Homo sapiens: one gene and its partner. The protein of the gene in region 1 interacts with the protein of each later gene in a pairwise test. Each region holds a gene or a part of one and is shown in the gene's direction. Other genes may lie near its edges.

Region 1 (16,733 bases):
TGATCTCCTGACCTCGTGATCCGCCCAGCTCGGCCTCCCAAAGTGCAGGGATTACGGGCGTGAGCCACCGTGCCTGGCGAGGCCAGTCTTTTTCTATTCAGGCCTTCAACTGAGTAGATGAGGCCCTTTTATATCACGGAGGGTAGTCTGTGCTACTCAGCGCCTACTGATTTAAATGTTAACCTCATCTAAGAAAAAATATCTTTGCATAAACATCTAGAATAGTGTCTGACCAAATATCTGGGTACACATTAGGTTTAAGTTGATGCATAAAACTAACCATCACAGACACTTACCTGGATAGAGAGATGGAAGGATGAATAGCTATTTGCATGACAAATGGATGGATGGAAATAATTTTATATAGGACGAATTTTTTGTTTGTTTGTTTGCTTTTTGTGGAGAATGGGGTCTCACTGTGTTGCGTAGGCTGGTCTCAAACTCCTGGGCTCAAGCTATCCTCCTGCCTCTGCCTCCCTAAGTGTTGGAGTTACAGGCATGAGCCACTGTGTCCAACCAAGATAAATTTTTATAACTGCAGTTTATCTCATAGAACAGATATATCGTGATTTATTTCAGCGGTCCCCAACCTTTTTGGCACCATGGACCAGTTTTGTGAAAGACAATTTTTCCACAGACCAGGGGTATAGGGGGGTGGTTTTGTGATGATTCAAACACATTACATTCATTGTGTACTTTATTTCTATTATTATTACATTGTAATTAGAATGAAATAATTCTACAACTCACAGTAGACTCAGTGAGAACCCTGAGCTTGTTTTTCTGCAACTAGATGGTTCCATCTGGGGGTGACGGGAGACAGTGACAGATCATCAGGCATTAGATTCTCATGAGAAGCTCGCAACCTAGATCCCTTGCATGCACAGTTCACAATAGGGTTCACACTCCTATGAGAATCTAATGCTGCCGCTGCTCTGACAGGACGCAGAGATCAGGTGGAATGTGAGTGATGGAGCAGCTGTGAATACAGATGAAGCTTCGCTCACTCGCCCACCACTCACCACCTGCTGTGTGGCCTTGTTCCTAACAGGCCATGGACCAGTATCGGTCTGTGGCCCAGGGGGTTGGGGACCCCTGATTTATTTAATATTCCCCATTGTTGGACACTGTGGTTAATTTCTACTTCTTGCTTATCAGTCCCGTTAATATGGGCATCTTTACCACCTCTGAGTGCTTGCCCCAACCCCGCCTGGGCCCAGGGATAGACAGTCGGATACCACTCAGTCCTGCCCGCAAGGAGCCCACAGTCTGGTTTCAACTAGTCTCTTACTGGCTTTGTGGTTTCAGGTCGGATGAACCCTCTCCCCAGTGGCTAAAGGAATTGAAATCCAAGAAGAGGCAAAGTCTTTATGAGAACCAAGTTTGACCAGGTATGAAGGGGCTCTGTTGGGGAACCTGGGAAGAGCCCTGCAGTCACAGGAATGGGGAACTCAGGGGGGCCACGCTTCAGAGACTGGGGCTGTTGTACCCAAGGAAAGAGGCTGTGTAAGGGGAAGAATGAGGGGTGGGGGGTGTTCTGAGTTCCTGTAAAGAGGATGGTTATGTCTGTTTCCATTTAGGGAGAAAACAAAGCTGGGCTGCCTGGAGTGGGTGAAAGGTACCAGGCCAGGAGGCAGGTGACTGGGGCTCTGGTCTCATGCACTTGGCTGACCCTTCTAGCTGCATCACAGTCCCCTCTGATAAAACAAAAGGGCGGGGACATCAGAGGTTAGCTTAATTAGAAATGGTTACTTTTTTTTTTTTTTTTTTTTGAGACAGAGTTTCGCCCTTGTCACCAAGGCTGGAGTGCAATGATGCAATCTCGGATCTTGGCTCATTGCGGCCTCTGCCTCCCGGGTTCAAACGATTCTCCTGCCTCAGCCTCCTAAGTAGCTGGAATTACAGGTGCCTGCCACCATGCCCAGCTGATTTTTATATTTTTTGTAGAGATGGAGTTTCACCATGTTGGACAGGCTGGTCTCGAACTCCTGACCTCAGGTGATCCATTCACCTCTGGCTCCCAAAGTGCTGGGATTATAGGCGTGAGCCACTGTGCCCGGCCAGAAATGGTTACAGTTTTTATAGGGGGAGTGTTTCATATACAACCTATGTAGTTAAAAATGAATTTGAAAAAATATACATTAAAAATTACGATTAGATAGGCCCTGGTGTAAGTTGCAAATGACTGAACATCATGAACTTAAGTTTCCTCATCTGTAAAATGGGTTAGCAGTGTCCACACCACCGAGTTGTCCTCAGGGCTCACTGAGAATGCACCTGTGGTGCTTGACTGAGTGCTGCCTGTTTCTCCTCAGTATAGGAGCTCATGGTACGTGCACCATCAAAGTCAGCGTTGATGTGATGAGCACAAGAGACTCACCATCCCTTATCCACAAAGCCAAATTCCAGAAAGCCCTGCAAAACAAAGCTTTTTCCTAAGTCAGTGGTAAAACCTGACCTGAGTGAATATAATTCTACTTTGACTCTATTTTCCCCACTTTATATGAATGTTCATAATACACTGCAGGAATATTATCTGCTTGATTATGGTGGTGTTACATATGTATATATATACATATGTGTATATATTACATGATTATGTATGATGCATGTGTGTATGTATAATAAATACTAAAAATTATAAATTCCCAAATAAAACTATGCTCAAGGGATTTGGATAAGGGATCGGGACCTGTGTTTATTTTGTGTTTGGTGCAGTACATGTAATATCTCATTTAAGCCTCCAGCAACCCCTTTGAGGAAACTGAGGCTCAGAATTGAGACTGGAACCCTGACCTGACCCTAAATTTCATGTTGGTTTCACTGTATTCCATGCCTGCCACCCTCCTCACCTCCCCTTTCCACCCAACACAAAAAATCTCTTTTGTGACCTTAGGCTTCTAGGGGTGACTTCATTGGAGAATATCAGGTGAGATTTTAAGGACTGAGGGTAGAGAGCAATGGAGCCAAATGTTCCCACTGCTGACACCAGTACTGTCCCTTCCTCTCCAGGCAGGGAACACTGCCACATCTACGTAACAGAAGCCTTAACCATCAGAACCCGCAGACGAGGCCGAGCTGCTGCCGTTTCTTCCTGCACAACGCTTACGTGCCTGGGCCCTTCCCATTGGATTGAGAACGCTATCCAGTGCCCCTGTCCTCGCCAGGCTCTCCCTGGATCCAGACGGGAAGACCCAACCTCCAGGAGCACTCGCTCATCTCCCCAGACAGCACTTCAGGCTGGGAAAGGAGCCAGGCTGCCCAGAAACGTCCATGTGGGTGGTTTTGCTTTTTATGTAAAAATTTGCATTTCTACCTATTTTAGACACCTTCATCAGCTCCAAGAACATCAGTGTGAGGCTGGAATTGTCTCCCCAGGTTCTGAAAAACACCTGCATTTGTGAAAGCACCTCCTCACCCGACCCCGGGGCAGGTCTTTTTTTGGAAGGACATTTCCAAGGAAGATCAAACTGTTCATTTTCTGCTGTAGTCTCGGTGCAGGGTATTACCGCTGGGTTGAGGTTTTCTATTCTTTTTTTTTGGTGAGTTCCTTCTTCCCCTTGAGGAATCAGCAGTTCCAATTTTTAAACATACTCTCCCTGATTATGTGTATTTCTCTTTCTAGTGGGGCTGTGTGCATCGTTGGCCTATGTTATTGTATGTCATTTTTGTTTGCTTTAGAAGGCGATAAAGCAATAATTCAGCTAATTTTCTTTGAAACTTGATAGGTATATATGTGTTTACGTTAAAGGACAGGAGGAAAGATGTGCGAATAATTTGTTCTGAAGTATCCAGTCACCTCAGGTTATCTTATCCCTATCCAAGCTGTTTAGAAGTTATAATTGTCACTCTTGTATTTATTTCCATGGCTTCTTTTCATTTGAGCTCTGGTTTCGGTAGGGTGACCTTTGCCCCTTGGCCTTAAGGGTTCATAAACTGCAGCCCAAGTGGTGGTGCCTTTGCTTATGAATCATCAGACCTGCCCTAGTAATCTTTTTCTCCAGAGTCTTCTTTGAACATGACGTGGGCTGCTGGCATGGAGGAGTTGTTCCAAACTGGCCTCAGAACAGATGCATGAATGAAGGGTACTTTTTGCTTTTGCTCACCTCATTTTCCTTCATCTTTCTTGATGAATCCATTATTTGCAAATGCTGTCAAAACATGCTTTCCTTCTCCCTGGCTACCTCTCAGGAGTTCATTTGTCTCTCTGTCTCAGCTTCCTCCCTCATCTTCCTTTACCCCTCTTCTCTGTCTTAGTGGGTGGATGGGCATGGATAGAAATCCTCTGTTTCTTTAGGTTAGGATAAACACCTGGGCCCTGGTGAGGCAGTTGCTGTTCAGCACCAGGGACAGCAACTGCAGGGCTGTGAGGCCGGAGCCCACCTTGTGTCCTGTTCGATGAGCTTTGGTTACTGATGAGCAATTGCCAGATCATGTCACCCACCCAGCCTTTTACACCTGGGAGCCTCATGCATCTGGGTTTGGGAGTTTGGCCCTGCTGATGATAGTTTGTTTTCTCTTCATTCCCTGAATTAGTCATCAGTTCTCCGTGGCCATTTGGGGATTCATGCCTGCAACTGCTTCAGTCGAATTCTTTTTTAAAGATCCAGTTTATGTTTTATAATAATTTTGATCTTATGGCTTTCAACGTCAATAGGATCCCCTTTAAAAATACCCTGCTAGTGTTTTGTTTTGTTTTGTTTTTCTGAGACAAGGTCTTACTCTGTTGCTCAAGCTGGAGTGGAGTGGCACGATCATAGCTCACTAACACCTGGGCTCAAGTGATTCTCCCACCTCAGCCTCCCAAGTAGCTGGGACTACAGGTGTATGCTACCATGACCAGCTAATTTTTAAATATTTTTGTAGAGACAAGGGTCTTACCATGTTGCCCAGGCTGGTCTCGAACTTCTGGGCTCAAGCAATTGTCCCTCCTCAGCCTCCCAAAGTGCTCGGATTACAGACATGAGCCACTGCACCTGGCCTGAAACACATTCCTAGTCTTTTGATCCTGACTTCTTATCTGGGCTGCTGTCTCTCTTTCCTTCAGGTGGAAAGGACCCCTTGGTACCATCTCAAGCAGTAGGAAAGGACCTGCTCTTACATATATTGATGGTCCTCATGCAAAACTCTCAATTCTTAATTAGTCATGTCTCAGCTCAAGGATATCAGACAGGAATGAAACACACTTGAAAATGAGATTGACCTGGAGATTTTTTTTCCCTAATCTCTCATACCTTAATTGGAAAAATAATCAATTAATTCTATGTTAATTAGGATATACAAAGTTCACCCTCCTTGAAAGTGACTAGGGCAAGCCCTGAAGATCTTCCTCACCTCCTTTTATTTTTCTATAACCTTGTCTCCTCCAGCACCACAGGGAAGACAATCACAGTGGGTCAAGAGCGACCCTCTTTCACGTGGGCTCTGCCATGACCTCTGAGACCTGCTTATGATCAGTGCAATGAAGTTAGAAGTAACTGATGATTGGGAGCCTTTGCAGATAGCTGGGCAAATGGGTGATTTACTTATCCCCATTCTAAATGGAGTGAGCTCTCTTTGAGGCTAAGCAAGGAGGCGTTGTATGCTAGTTTCTAGACTTTGCCTGGAGACCCCTTTGGAAATCTGTCTTCTTTTTAAACTCACTTAATATGCCTTAATCATCTGTGTGTAATGGAGTCATCCGCTCCTCAATCTAACCCTCCTCCCCTGGGGCTTTGGCTGTCCTCAATGAGAGTTTCATGCAGAATGGAAAATCCTCTATATGTACAATCTCTCTCCCCCTCATTTCTCTTCCTCCTCACCTCCACCACCCCTTTGCACATCAGCATTTTAACAGCTGATCTTTTGAGAAGCCTGTATCTTTTTCCTCTTCAGTAGATACCCTTCTTCATGGTCCTTTGCCTAATCAAACAGAGGCTTTTGGCCTTTGAAAATCCATGACAAGGCCTCAGAAATCAGTGTTGTGGAGGATTACTCCATGCCACCGGAGAAACTCTGGTGAAAGAGAAACCTCGTGGTCTTTAGGATGTTGGGATTTTGAGTGAACCTGACCTGATAGCCTCAGGATTCAGGGAAAGGACAATCAGATGGCGGTGTTTTCCAGGGGGACGCGCCAAATCATGTGGTTTCAGACAATTGTGTTTGCCTTTGTGCCTCCCTGGAAGGGAGGCCAACTAAGGGTATCACCAAGAAGCCAAAAGAGAAATAGGCATGAGCCTGTGGTTTTAAACTTTACAGGCTGGGCAAAGGATTTAGAAAGACCCTTAGCATGATTTTCCTAAAAGAGACCTTAGCTGCTCCAACCTGGTGCTGATAGCTGCTTTGTTGATCTATGCTTTAAAATTTTTCTTTATAATGCCCCCAGATGGCTCCTGGAACTAGTCGTAATTGCAAACTGTAAAAATCCCTCCTCCCCAGTGTAGATATTTAAACCAGAGTAAGTGATGGGGAGACATTCTGTGGTCTCTGAATGTGCCTTCCCCCTCACCGTGTGTTAAAACACAAAAGCCGAAGTTCCATGGCATCATGATTCCGAGGGGCTGGAGGGATAGGACCCACTCCACATCTAAAGGGGATCTGCTTTGGGCTCGGTCCCATTAGCGAGTGGGGGACTCTTGCTGTGTGCTAAGAGGCTGCTAGGACTCACCCAGTTGGAATTCTGGGTGGGCTCAGGAAGTTTAGAGCCACGTAAAAAGCTGGTAGGCATGAGTGTGCCAGGTCTTTGCCAGCCTGCGTCTCCTTTTGCACCCCCCAATCCAGAGTTTGCTTTCTTTTGACTAAATTGGCTCCTGCAGGGGGAAGGGCAGAAAGCTAGGCCCTCTGCTCTGGAAAGTCGGCCTGAGGTTTCCGGCAAGTTAACCCTTAAAATGGACACCCCTCAGCCCGCCCTCCCCTTTGGCCTTCCCAGAATCTCCTTCAGTGGTTGCTCTCACACCTGTGCCATAACATCATCTTCCATGACTTGGACGGGCACTTCCTTGACAATTCCTATTGGCATCACACGGGCTACAAATTATGCTGTTTTCTAAAGAATTTGAACTTTTTTTTTTTTCTTTTCTTGAGACACGGTCTTGCTCTGTTGGCCAGGCTGGAATGCAGTGGCACAATCATAGCTCACTCCAGCCTCCAACTCCTGGGCTCAAGCAATCCTCTCATCTCCACCTCCAGAGTAGCCTAGATGACAGGCGCACATCACCACGCCCAGCTGATCTTTTAAATCTGTTTTGTAGAAACAGGATCTCACTATATTGCCCAAGCTGGTCTTAAACTTGGTCTCAAGTGATTCTACTGCCTCAGCCTCCCAAAGTGCTGGGATTACAGGCCTGAGCCACCATGCCCAGCTGAATTTGAGCTTTTTAATAATCTCATTCCACATAGCCTTATAGATCCTGTAAATAGGGGGGGTCACAAAAGTAATATATTGTGTTATGGAAGATAATTTTGTACTGTGCTGTTTCCTAAATCATACCAATATCCTAAAGTCATGCACTTCCCAGATGATCGTGATCCTCCAAATGCTTTGTAAGATGGGGCAGGGCGTGGAAATATATATATATACACACACACACAGAGACACACACACACACAAGTATAGTATATATTTTCCTAACCTTTCTTCTGGGTCCTTCCTCAGATCTTTGAGTCACGATAGAAAAGGAGCTCGAGTTCTTTGTGTAGGAAAGTTAAGCTTCCTGCCTGCGGTGTTCTTGCAATTGCCTTAGGAATTCACAAGCTCTAGGAGTTCTGAACGGAAGGCAGACGAGAGGCACTTTATCCAGTCCCAGAAAGAATCTCTAACCGTGTGACTGAGAAGTCATCTAGAAAAACTTATATTTTTAATGTAAAAACAAATGGGGCTTACCAGACCTCACAGAGTATTGGACGTCTACAAGTGCTTTTATATTTTGTAACTGTAAAGAAGTTTCATATGCACAGAAGAGCAGTTGGAAATCTGGTCGACTGCAATAAAACAAGATGACCTTTGCATGTACAAAGATGTTGCATTCAGACTATGAAAATAGCAAATAAAGCTTTGGTGCAAGTTGCATTGGAGAAGTCGGTGCGTCCATGTGTGAATGAATAGAGTCTCCCATGCATGCAGGCCCTGACTGGGGCTGGCTGAGTCAGTCTGTCCTGTGCTGAGCTGTGGGCCAGCCAGCGAGAGGGCAGAGCTGGGGTCCTGGGAGAGGGTGTCCATGCAGAATGGGAGGCCATGGAAACAAGGCAGGATTTCCATTCAGACTGACAAGGGGTTGAGTCCTCCTCCTGCCACCCTCTGGCTGTGGGATTTCTTTTAAACATTGGTTCTCCTTAGCTATACAATGGGAGTGGTGATCAGGACATTTTTGCAGGTAACAGTTTAAGGTGGTGGTTCTCAGCTGGGTGGATTGTGCCCTCCAGAGCATGTCTGGTAATGAAAGGAGGCATTATTGGTTATCACAAGAAGGAGAGAAGATGCTCCAGGAAGTGAGTAGAGGCCAGGGATGCTGCTCAGCATCCTGCAGTGCACAGGACAGCTCCCACCCCGACCCCACCACAAAGAATGACCCGACCCCAAATGGCAGTAGTGTCAAGGTTGAAAAGTCTAGATTGGGGAGATGTGGTACATCAAAGTGCTGAGCGTGCAGTAGGTCTGCAAGGTCCTCAAAGATGTGATGGGAGGGGGAGCCACGCCATCCCCACCTCTGCCTTCCTCCTTCTGTCCCAGCTGGTGGCAACTACATCCCAACTCAGGGGGTCCAAACCGACTGCTTTCTGTGACCTTCAGCAGGAAGTAGCCCCTTGGCTTGAACTGTCCAGAGTAGGCAGGATGCTGGGAATAAAAGTCAAAAATAACAGATACTGTGCGCAGTGCTTTGCTTGCATGACCTCCCAAAATGGCCCAAGTGGAGAGAAGGTTCTCCATTTATGGTGAGGAGACAGTAGCTCTGAGACCTTCAGGAACTCGTCCAAGGTCACACACATCTGCCTGACTCAGAGTCCAGCTGTCATCCACAGCATCTCACCACCATCTCCCTCTAGGGGGTACAGGGTAACTGTGTTTTTGTTTGTTTGTTTGTTTTTTGAGACGGAGTCTTGCTCTGTTGCCCAGGCTGGAGTGCAGTGGTGCGATCTCAGCTCACTGCAAGCTCTGCCTCCTGGGTTCACACCATTCTCCTGCCTCAGCCTCCCATGTAGCTGGGACTACAGGCACCCGCCACCACACCTGGCTAATTTTTTGTGTTTTTAGTAGAGACAGGGTTTCACCGTGTTAGCCAGGATGGTCTCGAGCTCCTGACTTCGTGATCCGCCTGCCTCGGCCTCCCAGAGTGTTGGGATTACAGGCGTGAGCCACCGCGCCCGGCCTGTAACTGGGTTTTATGCTGACTTGAGGATTTTAGCCAAAAACAAATACCAACAACAACAAAAGAAAACCTTGTTAACTCACTCCTTTGCTCCAATATAATTTTATTCATAAAATAATCACTTATTAGATATTGATTACAGGCAAAATTATACTTTGTTAGACACTTAAAAAATTCCTGGAAGCTGGGTGCAGTGGCACGTGCCTGTAGTTCCGGTTATTCAGGACACTGAGGAGAAAGGATTGCTTGAGCCCAGGAGTTTGAGTCCAGCCTGGGCAATGTAGCAACAACCTATCTCTAAAAAATAAAATAAAAATACCTGGATCTACCTTTTTTCTTTGGTCATAAATAAGTTGACTGTGATGGTCACTTTTATTTCTATTGAGGCTAAGATCCCAGGTCCTGGAGCAGGCCAGCCCCTTCTCTCTGCTGTGTGATTCTGAGTAAATGGGTTCACCTCTCTGAACTCAGTTTCTCCATGTATAAAGTGGAATCAGAATTCCTCCCCTAAGGATGGCTGGATGAGAATTCCATACAATGCTTGTGAAGCTGGCACAATGCCTTGCGTGTAGTAGGTGTTCAAGAAATGGTAGCTATTATTCGTGCGTGTCTTCTACATGAAGAAAGTCAGTCTGTGAGTTCTGTGACGGCATCCTATGGAAACGGTTGGGTGGATTTGCGCCCAAGTTGGAGAGTATGGTTAGCGTGATCTGACTTAAAACTTAGGCCACATGGCACATGGAAACTGGAGAGTGTCTGGGGTCCCTCACTTTAAGAACTAGAATTTTTCCAAAGGTTGCGTGTGACTCAATAGGAAATGGTGACCCCAAGAAACCAAAGAAAGGGAGTTGGTGGTTGTGGGGAGACACGGGAGAGCTGCACACCGTGCCCCTTGCCTGGCGCTGCTGGGCTTCCCACAAAGCCAGTGAGGTTCATCTGTCCCCAGGAAGTCATCAGAGACGGTGGCTGAGGAGACAGGCACTGGGGGCCTCCGTGGACCCGCTATTGGAGTGAAGTGGCCTGGATGGAATTGGGTGGACAGGGTGCTGCCTCAGCAGGCTGGGATGTGCTGGGCTGTCAGAAAGTGCTCATAAATAGCATGCCCCTTGCGAAGACAGGCGAGTCTGCAGACGGCCGTGGCTCCTCTGTTCTTCCCGAGGCTACAGCAACAGGTTCATTCTGGGATGGGTTGGGGGTGGGGAGGCAAAAGCCACCCTGGCAGGCCCGGACCTTTTGTAGTTTCTGTGGGACGCGCATGGCTGACCGCCTGCAAAGAAAAACAGCGCCTCCCTTAAGGGTCAGGTCCCAGTGAGAGGACCCTGACAGCCCAGCTGGGGGTGGAACGAGGGACCCTTGTCTGCAGTGGCCAGGGTCCAAGCCCCTGGACATGTGCTTAGGGCAGGGGACCTTCCAAAACAGCTCCTCTGAGGGAGGGGAGTGGGCACACATGGTACCTGCCAAGTCCCCCGAGAGTCCCCTGTGAGCTGGACCAAGCCCTGTTTCCTGCTGAGGCTAGGAGAGACAGAACCGACAGCCCGCAGGCTGTGCATGGTTAGGCCCACATCCAGAGTATGTGGGCTGTGCAGCTGTGCATGCTGGGGTGGCCGTGCTGGGAGCCGTGGGTGGGTAACAGTTGGATGTGGGGTGTAGATGTAGGTGCCTTGTTTACCACTGTGGATGTCTGAAATGGGCAGGGATGTGTGTGTGTGAGGAGAGAGAGAGAGAGAGAGAAAGAAGCTGTCCTGTGAGCCCATGGGTGAAATATAACTGATAGTGACCATAGAAACTTTTGCGAGTGTGTGCACCTATGTGTGTGTGCTGACAAACAGAACAGTCCTGTGTGTGTCCATGGGTGCAACAATGATGAGAATCCTTCCATGTGACTGCGGCAGGGGCCTGTATTGCGTGTCACTGTCCCTGTAGCAATGAAGAACTGTCGGTGTCTGGGTCTTGAAGTGGCTGGTACACAGTCGTGTTCAATAAATGCTTAAGGAATGAGTAACCGAACGCAGGGAAACTGACCTGGAGCAGGTGTCCAACGACCTGGTCTTACAAGCCTTTTCTCTAGAGGTCTGTCTGTCCACCTCCCGACATATGGGGTCTCCTGTCCCTCCTGGTCACCCAGCCCAGAGCCTGGCACTGTGTAGGTGCTCATGGAATATTTGTTGAATAAAGTAACCAGTGAACAAAAGAGTTCCTGGAGTACGGAGGTGGGAGAGACCCCTGTAGAGGAAACTCCCTGAAGCCCACCCTTTAGCCAGGTTCTGGGGGTGGGACATCTGCAGAGAGCTCTGAGAAACCTGGGTTTCGGGGAGCATCTGGATCAGGGGAAAAGGGCACGGGCTTTGGAGCCAGGCCCGACCCAGGCCACTTCCTCACTGTGTGCTTGAGGAAGTGGCCTCACTTTGCTGAGCCTCAGAGTTCCCCTCTGTACAATGGGGCTCCTGATCCCACTGTCTCAGTCCACGTGGCCCATGGCAGGTGCTCAATGGATGTTTGCTGAATGACTGAATGTCGATCATAAGTTACAGCCACGCCCCATGGGCAGCAAGGCTCTGTAGCTCATCCTGGACTCCAGTCACATCAACACCTGGCTTCTCCCGGGTGGATCCAGTGAACCATTTTCTTTTGGTTTGAAGCCAGAGGTGTTCCTGGGGAGATGGCGGAACAGCACGGAGCACCCGAACAGGCTGCAGCTGGCAAGAGCCATGGAGACCTTGGGGGCAGCTACAAGGTACTGGGCAGGGAGGGGGTCAGAGGGCCCAGGCTACTCCTGGGCCTCAGGGTCATCTTCCCAGCCAAGCAGCACCTCTGCAGGAAGGAAGAGCCATCCTTCCAACCACCCAGGCCAGGACAAAACGCTCCGGGTGGGTCCTCTCACTGCCACCCTCCCGTTAGAAACTTGCTTCATGACTTTGCTGCATCTTCCCTCGTCTGCAAAACAGAAATGGTCACCCACATCCTGCCTGCACCAATGGATCAGAGAGGCCCGGGGGTTTCTGGAAACGGCTCTGAGCTCTGACTCTCCTGTCTGACCTCAGCCTGGTGTCTTGCCCACTCTGGGGAAAAGGGCACAGGGTTTGGAGGCTCTCTGGGCCTCAACAGCCCCATGTTTGAAATGAGGATGGTGCCCAGATATTGTGCCCAGAGTTGGTGTAAAGGCTGAAAGACATGAGTGAAGCCAGCTAGCAGAGGGAGGCACACTAGAAATCTGAGAGAAGGTTTGAATGTGTTGGCTCTGCCCTTTCCAAACCATCTCCGGGGTCTTTTTGGGAAACTATTCCAGACAGAGTCTAAGGATGGGTCGAATCCCAGTGCCTCCTCTTAACTTGCTGTGCAGCCCGAGGCAAGTATCTTACCCTTTCTGAGCTTCTTTGATCCCTTCTGTAAAATGACTAGAACAGATGTTCCCTGGGGATCTTCTACAAAGTCAGTTTGTGTTTCCAGGTGGGTGAGAGAGGCAAAACCTTGGTCTGCCTTTGCAGCCCTTCTCTTCCTAGGCTTGGGGCAGGCAGAGGTCTTCCCCGAGACTGCAAACAGGTGTTTTCATTTTTTTAAGGGGGAAATTTCCTATTAAGGAAAATACAGATTTCTGACCTCTCTTGAAAAAATTGGAACTGGGACCTCATTCCCTCATCGCCAGAAGCAGCTTCATTTCCCCACCGACCTCTCGGGTTATTTCAGTCCGCTGGACTCCCCACCTGGCTCCTGCTGGACATCAGAGTTGCAATCACTAGTTTAATTGGTCTCATTGAAGTTCCTGAAGGCGTTTCCCTCCATGACCATTAGAGGGCAGTGCAGGCCCACCTCAGTGCCAGCTCCAGGCTGGAGAGATGCAGAAAGCAGAGGGTACCTCCCTCTAATGCCCAAAGGAGGGGCAGAGGCTGGAGCTGGGAGCCTAGCAGAGGTGGGATGTTTAGGACTCTGCTCTTCTAGGTGATCTTGTACGAACTAGAGAACTTCCAAGGCAAACGCTGCGAGCTCTCGGCCGAGTGCCCCAGCCTGACCGACAGCCTGCTGGAGAAGGTGGGCTCCATCCAAGTGGAGTCCGGGCCGTGAGTACCTAGACCCCCAGTCCCTCGCCACAGCCCTGAGCCTTCTGGGAGTGTGGAGGCCCCAGTCTGAGCTCTAGATCTGTTGTGGGGCTTTTGACAGCTCCCCTGCCTTCTCTGGCCTCGTTTTCCGCATCTGTAAAATGAGAGTTGAAGAATTCTCTAGAATCCTAGATGTCTGCAGAAAATCCCAGGATACCTGAGGTTGGAAGAACAGCAAGGTCAACCTAGCACCTAACTCAGTGACTGGAACATGGGATTTAATATTTATAATTTTAATAATAATTGTAACACCTAAAATTTAACATGCATTATGTCATTGAATCGTCATGACCCTGTGACAGAGGTATCATTCTTATTCCCACTTTATAGATGGGGAAACTGAGGCCAAAGTTGGTAAGTGTCCCATCCATGTCCACAAGGCAGGCAGGTCTCCCAGCTGGGCCCTGAATTCCCGCCTTTGGATTGCAAGTCCAGGCTCTGGCACTAACCATCTGGGTGATCTTCGGCAAGTTGCTTCACACACCAGGCCTCTGTTTTCTCATCTGTTGAATGGGGATAACAATGGTACGTACTTCAGAGAGAGTTTTTATGAAAATGAATGGAATGATGCAAATAAATACATATTAATAACAATACAATACAAAGAAGAGGAAAAGGAAGAGGAAGAAGTCACTGTCACCTATGGAATACTTACTGTGTACCGGGCATTGTGCTAAAGACTTTTCTGGGTACCTTGCACAGAGGCTAGATTCTCAATAACATACCCTAGGATGGTTTTCTGGCCCAGAGTCTCAGACAGTTCCCGGTATGTCCTAGCAGCTCCTTTAATTACAGGTCCAGGAATTAGCAGTAGGGTTGGAGGGAGGGTACAAGGTTCAAGGTCAGCAGCTCTTGGACACTTCTCTCACTAAACTTGAATCCTTCCTCAGCTGCAGCAAAGGTGACCCAGCCAAGCCTCTTCCTCCCTCAGGTGGCTGGCATTTGAGTCCAGGGCCTTCCGCGGGGAGCAGTTTGTTCTGGAGAAGGGGGATTATCCTCGCTGGGATGCCTGGTCCAACAGCCGTGATAGTGACAGCCTTCTGTCCCTCCGGCCTCTGAATATTGTGAGTGTGGTTCCTGCTCACTTCTGGGTGTTCCTGGAAGCAGGGTGCACTGAGAGCTGGTCAGGCAGCTCATTGCACAAGCTGGGCTGAGGGTTTGGCCCATATGGACCTGGCCTGGGAAGGGCCCTCATGTTTCTGATTTGAACAATTGTGTGGGACAAGAAGTGGGATATTGAAGGGACATTCGGTTGGGGATTGAGACACCAGGACTCACATCTTGAATTAAACCAGCATAGCACTGGGACTTTTCTTTGTAACCGTACTAAAACGATGAGCCACATGGCCCAGTCTCAAATCAGTATTGTTATCAAAGAAATGCAGTCCAGGAAATAACTTCAGAAAGTAGCCAAAATACTTTAAGTTCTCCACTTGTGTTTTTCTAGCACCTGAAAGGGACACAGTCCACAGTGACACTTTTTATTTATTTGTTTATTTATTTATTTTTCGAGACAGACTCCTGCTCTGTCACCCATGCTGGAGTGCAGTCTTTCTCTCTCTCTCTTTTTAAACATTTTTATTTATGTATTTTTATTTCATTTTGAGTTGCAGTCTCGCTCTGTCACCCAGGCTGGAGTGCAGTGGCATGATCTCTGCTCACTGCAACCTCTGCCTCCTGGGTTCAAGTGATTCTCCTGCCTCAGCCTCCTGAGTAGCTGGGACTGAAGGCACATGCCACCACGCTGGGCTAATTTTTGTATTTTTAGTAGAGGTGGCGTTTTGCCATGTTGGCAAAGCTGGTCTTGAACTTCTGGCCTCAAGTGATCTGCCTGCCTCGGCCTCCCAAAGTACTGGGATTACAGGCCTGAGCCACCACGCCCGGCCCACAGTGACACTTTAAACACCACCCTTCTCCCTCCCCTGCTTCACTCACACCCCGCAGCTGCTCCAGCCCTTTCTCTTTGTCACATAACTGAGTCCTCCTTAGAGGGCAGTGGAAGAGGGGAAACTGGGAAGATTAAACCGGCATCTGGTTAGGAAAGAGGGAAAGCTCATATGTTGATACTTTTGATCTCTGTCCACCCTCTCCTGGCCTCAGTTTCTCTATCATTTAAATGATGGGATTGAACAAGATCTGGAAATTCCTTTTCAGTTTTATAATCTACGGCTCTAGGTTCCTAAATCAACCAGCTTTGGAGGAATCTCCCCGTCCCTCCTACAGTGAATTTGGGGGTGGAGGCATCTCCTGAGGCCCTTCCCTCCTGCAGCAGGTTTGGGGGTGGGTGTTATTTTGTGGTGACCTGTTGATTCTTTCCGGCATCTGGAGCCTCCTTGACCTCTGTTCTGGATATGGGAGCAGCCGCTCACCCCACGATATTGCCCTCAGGATAGTCCACATCACAAGCTGCATCTGTTTGAGAACCCAGCTTTCAGTGGCCGCAAGATGGAGATAGTGGATGATGACGTGCCCAGCCTGTGGGCTCATGGCTTCCAGGACCGTGTGGCGAGTGTCCGTGCCATCAACGGGACGTAAGGGACCCAACCCTCACCCTTGCCCCATCTTCTGGTCAGCCATGCCTCTGGCTCCAAACAGAATCAGTGCCCATAGTTTCTTATTATTTTATTTATTTATTTATTTATTTTTGAGACGGAGTCTTGCTCTGTCGCCCAGGCTGGAGTGCAGTGGCGCGATCTCAGCTCACTGCAAGCTCCGCCTCCCGGGTTCATGCCATTCTCCTGCCTCAGCCTCCCGAGTAGCTGGGACTACAGGCGCCCACGACCACGCCCGGCTAAGTTTTTGTATTTTTAGTAGAGACGGGGTTTCACCGTGTTAGCCAGGATGGTCTCAATCTCCTGACCTCATGATCTGCCCGCCTCGGCCTCCCAAAGTGCTGGGATTACAGGTGTGAGCCACGGCGCCCGGCCATCGGTGCCTATAGTTTCTTGCATGATTCATGTTCCCTGCACTCCTGTACTGTTGAGATTTCTAGGCAGCCTTGACTTAAAACAAGTAAAATCTGTTCTCTCCACCTGTTCCCATCTGAGTCCTTCCTGCTTTTTTAAACATCCCCACACCCTTGAACTGATTCTTGAAATGTTCTTCCCCCTCACAACTCTTGTTCTTCTTAACAAGGGGCCCAGGATGTATGCAGTTATTGAGATGTGACACAAGTTGTACAGAGGAGAGCAGGCTTATCACCTCCCTCTTTCTAGGCTTAATATCACCGTTGATGCAGTCTTAGGATCACCTGCTTTTTGTAGGTGGTTACATCTCACTTGTGGGCTTGTAATCT
Region 2 (15,847 bases), on another chromosome or scaffold:
TCAAGGAGGTATTTGCATTCCCATGTTTATTGCAGCATCATTTACAATAGCCAAGATAGAGAATCAACCTATGTCCATAAACAGATGAATGGATAAAGAAAATGTGGTACATATACACAATGCAATGCTATTCATCCATAAGAAAGAATGAGATCCTGTCATTTGCAGTGACATGGATGGAACTAGGGTCATTATGTTAAGTGAAATAAGCCAGGCACAAAAAGACAAATATTACACGTTCTCACTCATATGTGAGAGCTGAAAATGTGGATCTCCTGGAGATAGAGAGTAGAACGGTGGTTTCCAGAGGCTTGGAAGGGAAAGTGGAAGAAGGAGATAAGTGACGTTGGTTAATGGAAACAAAAATACAGTTAGATAGAAGGAATAAGTTTCAGTATTCCATAGTATAGTAGATAAATTATAGTTAACAATAATTTATTGTATTTTTCAAATTAGCTAGTAAAGAACTCCAATATGTCCAACACACAAAAAGAGATAAATGCTTGAGATGATGAATATCCCACTTACCCTGACTTGATCATTACACATTCTATACATGTTTCAGAACATCATGTGTTCTCTCAAAATATATGCAACTGTAATATATTAATAAAAAATATACAAACATACATTTAAATAGTAAGTTTATTTATTACAAGATGTCGTAGAGAGCCCTGGGTTGCTTCTACTTACATCTGGTTTTCACATTTACTTAACTGCCCAATTATTAGATACTCTGTATGTATTAGTCCATTTTCACACTGCTATAAAGACATACCCAAGACTGGGTAAGTTATAGAGAGAAGACATTTAATTGACTCACAGTTTTGCATGGCTGGGGAGGCCTCAGGAAAGTTACAATCATGGCGAAAGGGGAAGAGTCACATCTTCCTTGGCCTCAGGCAAGAGAGCAAATGATCAAAACAGGACCTTGCCAAACACTTATAAAACCATTAGATCTCGTGAGAACTCACCCACTATCGCAAGAACAGCATGGGGGAACCAACCCCATAATCCAGTCACCTCCCGTCAAGTCTCTCCCTCAACATCTGGGGATTACAATTCAAGAGGAGATTTGGGTGAGGACATAAAGCCTAACCATATCACCATAAGAAGCTTCTGGGCCGGGCGCGGTGGCTCACGCCTGTAATTCCAGCACTTTGGGAGGCCGAGGTGGGTGGATCACGAGGTCAGGAGATCAAGACCATCTTGGCTAACACGGTGAAACCCCGTCTCTATTTAAAAATACAAAAAAAATTAGTTGGGTATGGTGGTGGGCGCCTGTAGTCCCAGCTACTGGGGAGGCTGAGGCAGGAGAATGGCGTGAACCCGGGAGGTGGAGCTTGCAGTGAGCCAAAATCGCACCACTGCACTCCAGCCTGGGCGACAGAACGAGACTCCGTCTCAAAAAAACAACAACAACAACAAAAAAAAAAACAGCTTCTGGCCCCCAATTCATTGCAGTAAGAGCCTGTGAAATAAATAAAAGGGCTCTCTTCTGTACCCAAGTCGTTCCTTCCATTCTGTCTCCACCATCCATCCATGCTTACATCTGCAGCCTGCCCGCTCCTTTTTTCTCTAATGGCTAGAAGCTTACTTGTTAAAGGATGACAGCGTCTCCTCTGTGTCTATCTAGGCCCAACTGTTAATGCTTTGACTCTGGGCTGCTTGTGTCCTCATCAGATGACTTTGTTATTTATTTATCACATTGTTTGTTGTTTTCTTTGTTATTTATAGGGACAGTACCCTTTTATCTCCCCCAGATTCTAACAAAGTAATAAAACACATAAATTCAAACTATTAAATAGCTTTACCAGGCCCATTGTCTTTTACCAATTAATACTGCAAGTTTTATGCTTTGGGATCTTTCTGACTTTCTACAAAAACAATTTCCTTCATAGTATATATCAAGAATAAAATCAGTGTTATTAAGATAAAAATTCAGAGACTAGCCAAAAGGGAACCCTTGTTGGTCATTCTGTGTCAGCAACAATGCATTTCTTAATTCCTCGGGAAGGAGAGGATATTCACAATGTGTTGTCAGTCTCCATTTTTTCTTCCATTCATAATGTGAATCTCTGGTCTTGCATTTCAATTTGATTGTTATTTTCTACTGAATTTGTGCTCCTTCTAGTTCATTACTGGTTTGGATTTTTTATGATACAGCAGGGAAGCTTCTTTTTAAGGCTAGAGTGGTTTTGCTTTTATTGTGTGATACTCTTGAGTTCCTGGAATTAGAGAGAGGGTCATATAATTTTGGCAGAATAAAGCAAATGTTTTAAATGTCTCTGTAGCCAATATATTTTCTTATTTATGGAATGGGACTACATTTCTAGGGCATGTATACATACCTTAGTGAGAAGCTGGCAGGTAGTGGTAGTATGAATGTCATTTCAGAGTATACTTGAACTATGAGATAAATGTGATATGTTTTTTTTTTCCCCAGATTGTCAACATTACCTAGATATATGGGTAGAAAATAGTATTTTCTATTAAAACAAACATGAATGCACAATAGATTAGAAAAGGTAAGAGGACTTTTAAAATAAACCAATAACCATTAACAATTTTATTGCTTTTAAATTGTAGCATCCCTTAGATTCCAAAGTTACATATTTGCCTTATTTGTCTTTAGTGGGTGATCTGGAGGAAAAGTTTAGGAAGCATTTAACTAGAGTCCTTGTATAGTGTGATGAGCAAGGCTGTTGCATCAGGTTTTTAATTGAAGCCACAGAGTTGATTTTTATTTTGTTTTGCTTCCATCAACACTGTCTAGGGGCATAATTCAAATGAACATTGAAAAAATGCTTAATTATTTCTTTTTTATTCTCATACTCATTGTTGCCAAAATCAGACAGCATTTACAAAACCTTCATATATAGAGTACTGACTGAGGTATGCTATTTTTGTAATATGTATTAAATAGCATCATTTGTGAATTATCTGTAAAGAAACGGTTGCAGTAAGAAAAATCATAATTTAATTTCTAATTAGACTAGAAATTCTTCACAGAGGAGGTGAAGAAAGCGATGCTGACCTTGAGGGGGAGAATATTCTAAGTATGTCATAGTGAATGTCTTAGTCTTTTTTGTGTTGCTATAACAGAATACCACAGACTAGGTAATTAATAAGAAAAGAAATGTATTTGTTACAGTTCTGGAGACCGGGAAGTCCAATATTGAGGGGCCCACATCTAGTGAGGTCCTTCTTCTTGCATTATCCTGTGGTGGAAGGCTGAGGGGCAAGACAGGATGAGACAGCAAGAAGGAGCAGAACTCACTTTTATAGCAAAGCCACTTCTGTCATAATTAACCCACTTCGGTGGCAATGAAATTAACCTATTCATGATGACAGAGCCCTCATGACCTAATAACCTCTTATTAGGCCCCACTGCCCAACACTGTTGCATTGAAAATTAAGCTATCAACACACAAACTTTGGAGGACAAATGTGAACCAATTACCAGTGAGAGACAGCATGTTGAGATGGTGGAGAAAGCGCAGGTGTTCAGCAAAAAAAAAAAAAAGTGCAAGAATATCACCCCTTTAGTGCAGAAAAAAGAAAATTAACATTTATTGCCTATCTGTCATACTAGGTGTCTCCTATATGTTGTTTCATTTAAATCCTGAAAATACCTTGGGAAACTATATTCTCCCCATGCAGAAAAAAATGAGGCTCCAAAAGGCATGGAAGAACTCATGTCTGTCTGTTTCAAAAGCCCATGGTAGTGGGGGAGTTTGCACACTGTGCAGAGGAAGTTATTTGTGATTATTGAAGTGACATGTACAGTTTTATAACATGCTCTTCTAAGCCCCATTGGCTTTCCTCTGTGACCCTGTATAGCACTGGCTGTATGGACTCTTGATTTGATGTTTATTGTTGTCTGTCTTTGACCATCATTCAAAACAGCATGTGGACTCTAAAAGTCATACTTCCACACTTTGCCTTTCCTGTGGAGCCTGGAATTTTTTAATAGATGATGGTTAATATTAATCGCATGATTGACTTTTTACATCTAAGATTCTAGGATTTAAAAAAAGTGTTAATAAGCAAAGTCTAATTTGAATTTTCTTTTTTTATATTTTTTTATTATAACTTAAGCTTCACTTCTCAGCCCACAAGTAGTGTGAATTAAAGCTGCCTCAGCATTTGTTCTCTTTCAGATATGTCTAAAACTTTAAAAAAAAAAAAAAAACAGGATAAAACCAAGGCCAGGAGCATTATCTTAATATTATACTTTCCAGCTATCTTATGCTGATAAATGCCAGTATCCCCAATTACAGAAACTATGAATTGTCATCTAGAGTCAATGGTAAGATGAGACAAAATCATCAAAACTTTTAAGTGCTTTTTCCCATATCAGCTTAGTGTATCAGAACTTTGTCATTTCATCATGCCAAAATGCCACCTCCTTAGGGAGGCCTTTGCTGACCTCCCTAGTTACCAATCCTATTTGGCGATTACCATGACATGGTGGCAGCACTTAGCATGGATTAACTCATTGATTTAATACTCAAAAGGATCATATAAGCTAAGTGCCACTATACCATCCAGAATTTTTAGATAGGGAAACAAACCCAGAGATGAAGTAATTCCCTTAAGATGGGTTACAAGCTAGGAAGTAGCAGAGGCAACATATATACCTGGTGTTCTAGCTCCAGAGATCCTACTTCTAACCTCTAACTACTCCCTTAAAATCTCCCCTAGCCCCTCCCCTAGAGCCTCCCCAGCTCCTCCCCCTTCCCTAATCCCTTCCCTAGCTGCTCCCCTAACTCCTCCCCTAGTTCCTCCCCTAATTCTTCCTGCAGCTCCTCCCCTAGTTCATGACTGCTTCTTTCCCTAGCCCCTCCATTAGCTCCTCTTTCCCTAGCCCCTACCTTAGTTCCTTCCCTAGTCCCTCGAACTCCTCCCCAAGCCTCACCCCTAGATTCTCCCCTAACTCCTCCCCTAGATGTTCTCCTAACTCCTCCCCTAGCTCCACTCCTAGTCTCTCCCTAGCTCCACTCCTAGTCTCTCCCTAACTCCTCCTCTAGCTCCTCCCCATCCCCTCCTGTGTCGCTCCCCTTGTCCCTCACCTAGACTCCCCCTAGCTCTTCCCCACTCTCCCTAACTCCTCCCCTAGCTTCTCCCCGAGCCTCATCTCCTTAGCTCCTCTCCCAGTCTCTCCCTAACTCATCCCCTAGTCCCTCCCCTAGTCTCTCCCTAACCCCTCCCCTAACTCCTCCCTAGCACTTCCCCTGGTCCTGCCCCTAGTCTCTCCCTAGCTCCTCCCATAACTCCTCCCCTAGCCCCTCCCCTGGTCTATCCCATGACTCCTTCCCTAGTCTCTCCCTAGCCCCTCCCCTAACTCCTTCCCTAGCCCCTCCCCTGGTTCCGCCCCTAACTCCTCTCCTAGCTTCTTTGGTAATCACTACCTTAACCCATCCTTTAACTCTCTTAACTCCTCCCCTCCTCTGCCCTGCTTCATTTTTCCTTCACTATATCATCAGGGTCTTGCAGGAAAGAAGATGCACTCAGCTGAGATTAAAAGAATTTGATGAGGAGGCTGCTTCAAGAGCTGGGGGAACCGATGAGAAAATGCAGACATGCGCAACAGCAGGAAGCATCACCACCCTCAGGCCTGCGGGCCAGGCGAGGAGGAGTGCGGGGCAGGACCCTGGGAGAGAGGGGAAGGAGGGACTAGTAGAGCCTCCAGGCGCCGTGGGGCAGAAAGTTCTGGAAGCTCAGAGGACTGGCGGTGGCAGAGCCAGGGGCGTGGGGCAGGAGGTGCGAGGGAAAAGCCCCTCTTCTCTTTGATCCCCTCTTGCTGAGCCTGGTGCACTTTCCTTGACGTGGACAGCAACAGAATCCAGGACATAGTGAATCTAAAACAACTTTTTTTTTAATGCAAGATTTTTCTCTCAGTATTTTGACATTTAAATGGTTCTACCGCTAAGTGGTTAAGTGGTTCCGTTCTAATTAGCCTTTTACCACCCAGTTCATCCGAGTTTCCTCCCTGCATCCCAAGCTTCCCACAGTGAGAGAGTATTTTCCACGTCGCCAAACACACCTGGCAATAGAACAGGCTGAAAGCGAGTGACATTGCCAAGGACAGAGCCACCTGCGGAGCCTGACACAGAGATGGTCGGTGCTCGGCGTTAACAGATTGTCTTCTCTGTGTTCCTCGCCCAGGCGATCAGATGACACACAAATCAGACTCAGCACAGTCCCTCCTTTGGGTAAAATAGAAACTCTGAAAGAGCATGACTTACTACATCTATTTTTCTTCTCCCTCTAAGCTCATCCATTAGATACAAGTCATTCTCAAGTATGAAGAATAATTGCTGGCTTAAAAAGGATGAGGGGGAAAAAACAAATAAAGATGAGGAAACGACTGGAAAGTTCATCAGAAGCTTTAGTTAGCATGCATGCGTTTCTCTGTACATTGTTAGCATTCTGAAAAGTTTTCGGTAATCACTTCTGTTTTCGGTTTGCGATAGACTATTTCTCATGCAGGGGTGCAGCTGAACAACCAAAAGCATAGACAGAATTTTCTTTAAATGTATTTTGTATGGAATTTAACTTTTGGCCATTTTGGTAGCCATCGAGCTTAATTGTTTGGGTTAACCATATCATGAAGTGAGTTCAGTGACGGTGACTCACACACCGGCTAGGATAAGTCAGAATCTCTATCATTGTAAAAGCTTTCTTTCTGATAATTCATGGTTACTGGTTAGGGTAAAGCACAGCTTGCCTGTTCCCAGAGATTTTAAGAAAGTGTGTAATTTGCTTTTATATGCTGAAATTGAGCATAAAGGAAAAGAAAGCAGCTTACAGGCTCTCCATTAAAAACAGCTTTTTCTGGGGAAAAGCTTTTCTGCTTTTATTTCAAAAGTTGAAGAACAGCAGAAGTTTCAGATTCCCTAGAAAATCTACCTAGCTCTCTGGCATCCAGAATTTTTGGCAAAGTACATTTGGAGGAAATATTGAGCTCTGAATACATTTTAATTCATCAAGGATCAAGGCAACAAGATTGCTCAATTTTTACCAACTTATCTTGAGCTCAATATTGAGGATGTGAAAGCTGCTGCCTTGTTTATTGTTCTTAAAAATATAGATAGATAGATAATAGATAGATGATAGATAGTGTATCTTTTGTGCTTCTGAATCTGTTTCTCAGTAGAGCTCTCCTTTCTTCCTCTCTAGGTCATGGGTTTGGTTCGTCAAAGATGTCTCGTGCACAGACATTTCCCAGCTACGCCCCAGAACAGAGTGAAGAGGCCCAGCAGCCGTTGTCGCGGTCCAGCAGCTATGGATTCAGCTACAGCTCCAGCCTCATCCAATGACACACAGAGAGCCGCTGTTGACTAGAGAGACAGTCTGTCCTGGACCCGTCTGTGGGGTCATTACCCTCTGCCTCCTGGAAGACCAATTGCAGTACAAATTGAAATGGGTCGGCTCTAGCCCCAGTCCCATTGGAAGGTTAAAAACTGGAGTTCTGCTTCCTTGATTCAGTGGCTAAGTCCTTTATTTATTGAATTTCTTTGGGGGAATCTATGTTTTACATAAATAGAATCCAAATCGTATGAACAGTTATTTAAATAAACAAAATTCTTTGGGTCTGACAGTAACAGAAACCTCAGCACTGGGAAAAGTTGCCCACACTGGGGTATGCCTGGGTGATGGGCACCTCTCACTGACCTCACAGCGCAGTCCGCCCATCTGAGCACAGGGTCTGTCCTTAGACATAATGGTGACCCTCCACAAGCTCTGTGGCTTTTAAAGTTCTGACAGGGATAAATACAGTAAGCTCTGCAAATGACATCGTAGCTGCATATAAATAAACCCAGTGACAATTAAAGGAACATGAAATTCAGAACACACTATTAAGCAGGGCCCTGTAGCTCTACTCGTGTGTGTGTGTGCGTGTGTGTGTGTGTGTGTAGACAAATGGATATTGCTATATCCATCTATATATAACAAGTATATATCAAACATGTGCTGAGGGTGACAGGATATGCTCACTTAAATTGTTGAAAACCATAATTTGGTGCATTAAAGTTAAGATTGTTATGTTGAATAGCTATTTTTAAAATAGTGCTGTAAAAAAAAAAAAAAAAAAGGCTTCTTATTAGCAAAAGTATATGTAATCCAGTCTGTTCCTAACAAGTGTAAGCAAAAATGTGAGAAGGGGAACATTCAGAAGCAAAAGAACCAGTCTAGCTGTCCTACACATCATGTCATACCCTGTCTTTCTGGTGAGCGTTTCCTTGTTGCTGACAATGTTGCTCCCTGTGGCCATCCATCTGAGCTACGTGAGGAGGATTCCATGTGAACGCCGATCAGCTTCCATTTAACCTTGAGAGAAAAGAGAGGTTCTAAATGAAGAACTCTTTAAGAAAGAAAGAATACACCCATAAAGAACTCAGCTATTTTGCAGTAAAGAGAAGAACAAAATGGGTACAGGATTGTGGATATCATAGATGCTGTTCTCACACAACCACTGGGGGCTTGTAATTTACTGTGTAACCAGAACTTGCAGGGCTTTATTTTTTCTTTTACTGGACACAGGTTGTCTGAGATTATAAGAAATAAAATAGATCAATAATTTTCATCATCCCTGACACTGATTACAAACCTACAGTGTTTAAAGGGAGGTAGTGAATTCCACGGAAACTGAGTTTGGCTAATTCAGGTCAACAAAGATATATTTGCCCTTAATTCTGGAGTTAAGTAAAAATAAAAATTATCCTGCCTGAATCATCTGATGCTTTGTGCCTAAGATGGTTATCTCTCAAATACTCTAGGGTGGGTTTAAAGAACAGTGAGCTCAGGTCACGCAAGATGAAAACCCAGGTTTTTTTTTTCTTAATAGGAAAATTTTTTAAACTATCCAAATTAGTCTGTTGAAAGGGTACCTTTTTTGCTGATCTCTGATGAGTTGTCTTTTCATCCCTATCTGTAGCTTGAGTGCAGATTGACAATTCATTTCAGTGAATTACTACCGAATAAAAGTGGTTCCGGATCCCTCCTAGATAAATGTGCACTTACAGCAACTACCTAGGCTCTCCAAATCACTCCACTCGGTATGAAAACCCCATCAAGATACTAATCGTAAGAGTTAATGTGGCTGCAAAAAATAATTATCCTAAGCTTTCAGGGATAAAAAGAAAATTACCCAGGTTCTCTGCACTGTGAATTTTGCTGACACAGCGGAGGAGCAGATGACTGGTTCCTACAACTGTACAGCCTTCCTTGAAATCATAGCTTTTGGGGTTAAACACTTGTGAATTTCTTTTGCACATGGCATTTGCTTTTGAAATGCCTTTAGTCAAATACACCAGAGCAACTCCCAGCTGAGACCATTTGAGCACAGTTCCTAGTGGGGCCACATTCAGAGCAAGCCTCTCGCCGGCTCACTCAGTTGAGCTGTTGCTTAGACACCACAAGTTTCTACAAGGGACTTATGGGGAACGGCCCTCAGGGGTCCTGGTTCACATCTCAGCTTTATTCATGTGCTGGAAGCACAAACAGCGAGTCCAGGGAGGGATTCTGCTAATCAGATGAGTCTGCTCTTGTGTCTCTTTCTTAGGAGACAAATACCTGTATGTAATTGCTTCAAGAACTCCATTTGGTTCTGATCATTACCAATGAATATAACTGAAGGAGCACCAAAGATCAGGCATAACCTCGGGCCAGTTCATTCTGAAAATGATGTCGTAAAAAGAGTATGTGTGAGAGAAATCTCCTTCCCAAGTTTTTAACCAGATCTCGTCACAATGAGGAGAATGCTATAATCTATCTCATGGTACATTTTTGGAGCTTAATTCTAGCATACTCCTCCAAGTACACTCACAATTGTAGCTGAGTCAAGACTGCTAAATGAACAGATAGGAGAACTTATATTAGACTAATATCCTTGACACGAAGCAGGGTTCATTGTAATAAAAACGGCAAACAGATAAATCTTCTACCAAAACCAAAGATGGAAAGTCACTGCACCAGTCTCCTGGAACTTCATAAAATCAATTTCACTGGAGCAACCAGAAGGGTCATGGAGATGTATACCACTCGCTTGGGCTCGTAGGTTTTTGACTGGGGATGCCTCTACACTTTGTAAGTCATTTCTCCCTTCAAAAATTGTATTATATCTTTAATATATGTGTATTTTTCAATGCGAGGGAGGAATTACTATGAACCAAAGATATCTTTTGGCTCCTTCTGAAAGTGACTCAGTTTGAATTCCATTCAGATTTGTACAGATAAATAGATGGTCACCATTTCTGCATCAGGTTGGAAGAGACCAATGATAAAGGAACCCAACGTAAGGAATAGCAGTTCTGAAAATAGACAAAGCCTAGAGGAGGTATCTATTTCACTGAGAGATTACACGAGGGGACTTATTTTTTATGTTCCCAATTTTTTCTTCTGATAATATTAATCAATGTACACATGATTGATGCATGATATTACACTTAAAATGCAGGAGAGTACAAAACAACCTTGATCCAATAGTTTCCTATTCTGGGGGGTGGGGGCAGAGGCGGAAAAGAAAACACATCTTTCACTTACTTATTGAACAAACAATAAGCACTCAGAACTAATTTATTTATGCAGGTTGCAAATATGTATGAAGCAATAGGTTCTGGCCACTGCCACAATTTGAAATCAATAAAATAAGAAATATATATTTATATATGAGGGAAGATGCTGTTTGATAGAGCATGTGAAATCAATGGAAACATATTTATTAAAAGTAAACCTCACCTTTTTCACCAAATAGTAACTAGAGAACTAGTCCTAGTATCTTGCGTAATTCTTCTCTGTCTTCATTGGGAAATTATGTTTGAAAATCTTTCATCACCTATAAAATGGTGAGCCTCTTGTACTTTCTATTCAGTGTAGAAAGAGTGGACTGATAAATAACTTTACATTGTTGGTAGTAGTTTCTACAGATCCAGTTTATTGCATGTCGTATCTTTATTGTAGATATTAAAAACACATGATAAAAATTGATGTGTGCCCCTCCTTGTTTGGCCAGTATCACAGAAAACTTTGTAAAAAAGCATGGGGACCCTACTCCCTAGATTATTTGAGCCATTTACTAAAATTGGCCATTAGTGATACAGTGAAAACAAGCTAAGGAAATGATATTCTCCTAAAAAGTTATATTCCAGTTTTGATTATTATAACACAGCACAATAAATGGGCAGTATACGTCTAATGGAACTGAGATTTAAGGCTTTAACAATTCGTGTTTTAAAATATTATATTGAAGACTGCACAAAGAGAAAATTATACATGTTTCTCCAATCCTGTGATCATGTCTGTAAATACCTTGCAATTTCAAATTACTTCATCCGTCATTAACTATATGATCTCCCAAACACAGCCTTCTCAAAATCGATAAAAATTTGCCACTGAATATGCATTAATAGCTATAACAATGGGTGACATGCCACACAAATTTAGCTTATGCAATTTATGGGGTGTGTGTTTGCAGACTATGAAATGTATGAAGTGCAGTCTCCCATGGAGAGAATAGAGAGGCAGGATGGCAACTAGTCATGAACGCAACAATTTAGGTTAAATGATAAAGAATACAATGAAATGTCCAGAGTAACACTTGGTCTCTACCTTTCTAACATTCTAACCCAAGGCCAGTGTCATGGGCTTGGCTTTCTTCCCTGTCGCCTCATACTGAGTATGCAATTTACAGAGGACATCTGTTGCTTTATGTCTTAAGGCCACTAGAGGAAGTCACTACATTCCCAACAAAGATGTGTCTTTCGGCTTAGTGAAAAACATTTAACAAGAAACAATGTGTAACCAAGTCCCCACAGTAAAATGTGTCTTCAGAAACATGAGAATCACTTTTATATAGCCAACCTCATTTGAATTTTATCATGAACATAAATTATCGGTGAGACTGGTGTGCGGGGCTGGATCTGTGAGACAAGCTCACACTCTCATGTGTGCATTCTCTATTAACATATTTGGAAGATTGCCCACATTTTCTCTGCAGACCTGCCACAAATCCTTACCTTCTTACTGAAGAATGTGACTATTGTAGCATTCGTGCAATTATGCCAGCAGAGGAGGCACTAGACAGTTTATAGACTCTTATGGAAGTTGGGCACATTTCCCAGGCAGGTGGAATGCTAGCTAGATCTAGAAGCACCCTTAAAGGTCATGTAGAATCAAGGTCCCACTTTATGTTTCCCTTGGGAGAAAACTGAAACCCATGGATGCTGTAATTTGTTTAACGGCAAAGAAAGAGCCAAGAATTGTTTCTCGTAGTTCCAGGGTCCTGATCTAGGAATGTTTCCTTGGCTCCATGGCATCTCCCAGTTTGACATAGTGGGAGCTGAGAAATGCCATATGGCCTCAAAATAAATAAACCCTTGTACATTTAAGTGTTTTCCCAGATTTTCAGATGCCTCTACTCTTGCTGAACTCATCACCAGCTGTATCAGTAGAGAGGTGTTATGGGGCAATTCATTAGATTTCTGGTAGGTCATGAATGGTTGGTATAAGCTTTATTTACTCATATATTGTCATCCAGTTCTTTGAAATTCAATCTTATCCTAAAGTGGTAGTCAAAGTAAAACACATTAAGTAGGTGTTTGTGTTTAGCAGTCCTACTAATTCATCACAATCACATAGTAATTGTGATTATAATTTTTGGAATCTTTATCACTTTCTAGCACTTTACGGTGTCATTATTTATGGCATTTTTAACAACTTTGTTGCATAATTGATAACATCAGGGCTACATTTTTTTCATGTGAGCCTCAAGAAGCTTCCATTATCAACAAGAATTGGGGAAATGACTTTTTTACATTATAATACCTTATATATTAGGTTTTTCCTGATAATCTTCAGTAGACAATGATTTAAATTAACTGAAGTTTAAATAAGAAATATGTTAAAATTACTAAATAATATGAAAACCACATTATACTTGTAATTTTCAGACACTTTTCTCCTACCTTAAGATTTTAACATCTTGTAAATATTAATATTTGAAGGGGAGAGGAAAAATACATTTGTAGTAGAAATATTCCCTCTAACAATTCTGTTTAACTAGTAAGTTTTTTTTAAGTTATCTTCCATGCCTGCTTCCCTAGTCTGAACTCCACATTCCAGTTGTCAGAAGAATGAATGGATTTAAATTTTCTAATCATTATTTTGGGCCCATGTTAGCAGTTGAAACAATTAAGTTCCTCACTCTTTCCTGCTTTTAGGATGATTTTAGACTGTGAGCATAAAATCAACCCTTTCTGTCAGCACAGAATTGAACATCGAATGGAGCAAGGTCTACACTCTCAGCCTGTAGCTGTGCTAATGTTAGGATTGAATTGTTCTATTAATTCCCTCAAGAGACCCACAGCCTCAAAAGAGTTGCTTATTATCAGATGTCCGAAATTCAGAAACCCAAAGTCAGGCAAAGAAGGAAACTGAGATAATGATTTAATTTTTTTAAGTCACTGCAGGATTTCTCTCAAAGAAAACATCTGAAAATGGTTGAGAAAGTAGTTCCAGATCATTAACTATTTTACAGAGGGACTGAAAGCCAGGGAAAATAAAGAACAGAATGATAGTAGTATCTTGATATTAAATTTGCATCAGAAATGAGCAAAATATGTCAATATGAAATAATTTGAAATCAAATTCAGATTCACATGTATAGTGCATAGTTCAAGAAATAATGCTTACTCTTGTAAAAAAAAAAAATATATATATATGTATCAGCAGGTAGAGTGTGGGAGCTCCAACTTTGTTGTGAAAGCTGATAACAGAGTATGATTCTTTCCAGTTACAAAATACTGTATTACTTTAGTTATAGCAAGCAGTACATAAATGACATCAACAACTCAGGCTGCTCCCTGACATAAAAGCCAGTTCCATCTTTACTGCAGATGACAGGAGACTTTCCAAGACCTGCAGAGGCCCCCTCCACCCCAACCTTAGTGCATGCTCACACACACACACACACACACACACACACACACACACACACACATTTTTGGCTTTTGACCCACTCTGTGTGTTCCACTGAAGTTATCTTTTCCTTAATAGATTCACACAGAATTACCCCATCCTGCAAAATCCTTATCCCTATGAATCTCTAAAATATATTAAATAATGTGTTATATATTTGCTTTTTGTAAATCTTTATTTAATTAATTTATATATACTTTGTGAAGTCTTATACTGTACATCATAAAGCGATGTCATCTGTAGTTGGTTCAATATAATGTTTATGATCATTTTGATAAGAAATAACTTTGGACATTAGGCCCTTGTTAAGAAATAAAACACCCATTATAAATTTGCTTCTGTTGGAAAATACATGATTTGGCATACTTCATTTTTAGTAACAATCTATTCTAGATAAATGATAATTTGGGGACATCTGTACTTAAAAACTAGCTGAACTACGTTTTGGGATGAGATGCAAAGCAACAGCTGTCCCTGGAACTGAAATGTGAATTTCTAGCAGAACAGAAAATATTATAATAATGAGGCAATAATAAAATTAGGAAATTAAATTATTTTTAAATCTGTCTGTGTGATTTTTCCCCTTGGTAAAAATACATGAAATACATAATTGAAAAATTACCTTCTTCTGAAGTCGTAGTTTTTAATCTTAACCATCAATAAATAAACCTATTGTTAACAATGTCTTATTCATAATTCTAAAAAATTTACAAATGATATTGCTATGAGGTTGTGCACTATTAAAGTTTGCTCCATCACTTAAAGGTAAAGCAGTTCAAAAATACTACTTTACATCACAACTTTGCATGGCTGAGATTTTGAACAACTAAATTGATGGTTTTACCCACAAGTTATTTCATAAAGCTAACACTGTAATATTACTTGGTTTTCTTATACTTTTGTTATCATGTGATGAAATGTAACTATGTAATTAAACAAAATTCTGACAATCATATTCTGCTAATGTTTAAAATGTTACTTATTCCTTCACTTATTAGCTTGCTATTTTGAAAATAAAGTGAAAGAAGGCCCTTTATTAAATGAAAGGTTACCGATAATTTATTATGTATTTCCAACGTTTTCCTAACTCCATCTTTTAATATAATTGAATTTTTATTAGGTTGACTCTGGTCTGAAGGAATTATAGAATTTAATATGGAAAATGACACTAGAGATTAACACTTTCGGATATCCAGGCCGGGCGCGGTGGCTCACACCTGTAATCCCAACACTTTGGGAGGCTGAGGCGGGTGGATCACTTGAGGCCAGGAGTTCAAGACCAGCCTGGCTAACATGGTGAAACCCCGTCTCTACTAAAAATACAAAAATTAGCTGGGCGTGGTGGCAGGCACCTGTAATCCCAGCTACTCAGGAGGCTGAGGCACGAGAATCGCTTGAACCTGGGAGGCGGAGGTTGCAGTGAGCTGAGATCGTGCCACTGTACTCCAGCCTGGGTGACAGAGTGGGACTCGCCCTCAAAGAAAAAAAAAGATATTCAGAGAGCTTAACTGGCTTGCATAATGTTGCACAGCTAGACAATGGCTTTTCCTACAGAACTCTGCTAATAGACAAAAAAAAAAAAAAAAAATTGAAAATAAACATCATTTGGTAGATAAAGATTTAACTTCAAAAGTGAAATGCATGCAGCTGTGACTATCATGCTGTTATCAATGGCTTCTTTTATTTTTCAGCCCATGATTAAGTAGCCTTTGCCACTCAGATTTAGACCTGTCTAGAAATACACTTACAGAATCTGTTTTTCAAACTTAACCTTTAAATATTAGCTGGGCATTTCTTATGGGCTTACTAGATTAATTTGTTATGAGTATTTTTCCTTTTAGAGAATAATGCTTTTAAAGAGAGT

What was found.
Region 2: the proteins of CRYBB3 (region 1) and DOK6 interact in binary tests that used the Homo sapiens proteins (3 or more experiments, as listed by UniProt).

Annotation. Positions count from the first base shown.
Region 1 is NC_000022.11:25,189,394-25,206,126, forward strand, and holds the start of CRYBB3 (beta-crystallin B3), read left to right. Parts: upstream 1-10,464; 5' UTR 10,465-10,516; exon of another isoform or gene 10,517-11,983; 5' UTR 11,984-12,003; coding exon 12,004-12,078; intron 12,079-13,280; coding exon 13,281-13,399; intron 13,400-14,369; coding exon 14,370-14,502; intron 14,503-15,826; coding exon 15,827-15,969; intron 15,970-16,733. UniProt on the Homo sapiens protein: Crystallins are the dominant structural components of the vertebrate eye lens.
Region 2 is NC_000018.10:69,834,059-69,849,905, forward strand, and holds the end of DOK6 (docking protein 6), read left to right. Parts: intron 1-7,185; coding exon 7,186-7,325; 3' UTR 7,326-15,029; downstream 15,030-15,847. UniProt on the Homo sapiens protein: DOK proteins are enzymatically inert adaptor or scaffolding proteins. They provide a docking platform for the assembly of multimolecular signaling complexes. DOK6 promotes Ret-mediated neurite growth. May have a role in brain development and/or maintenance.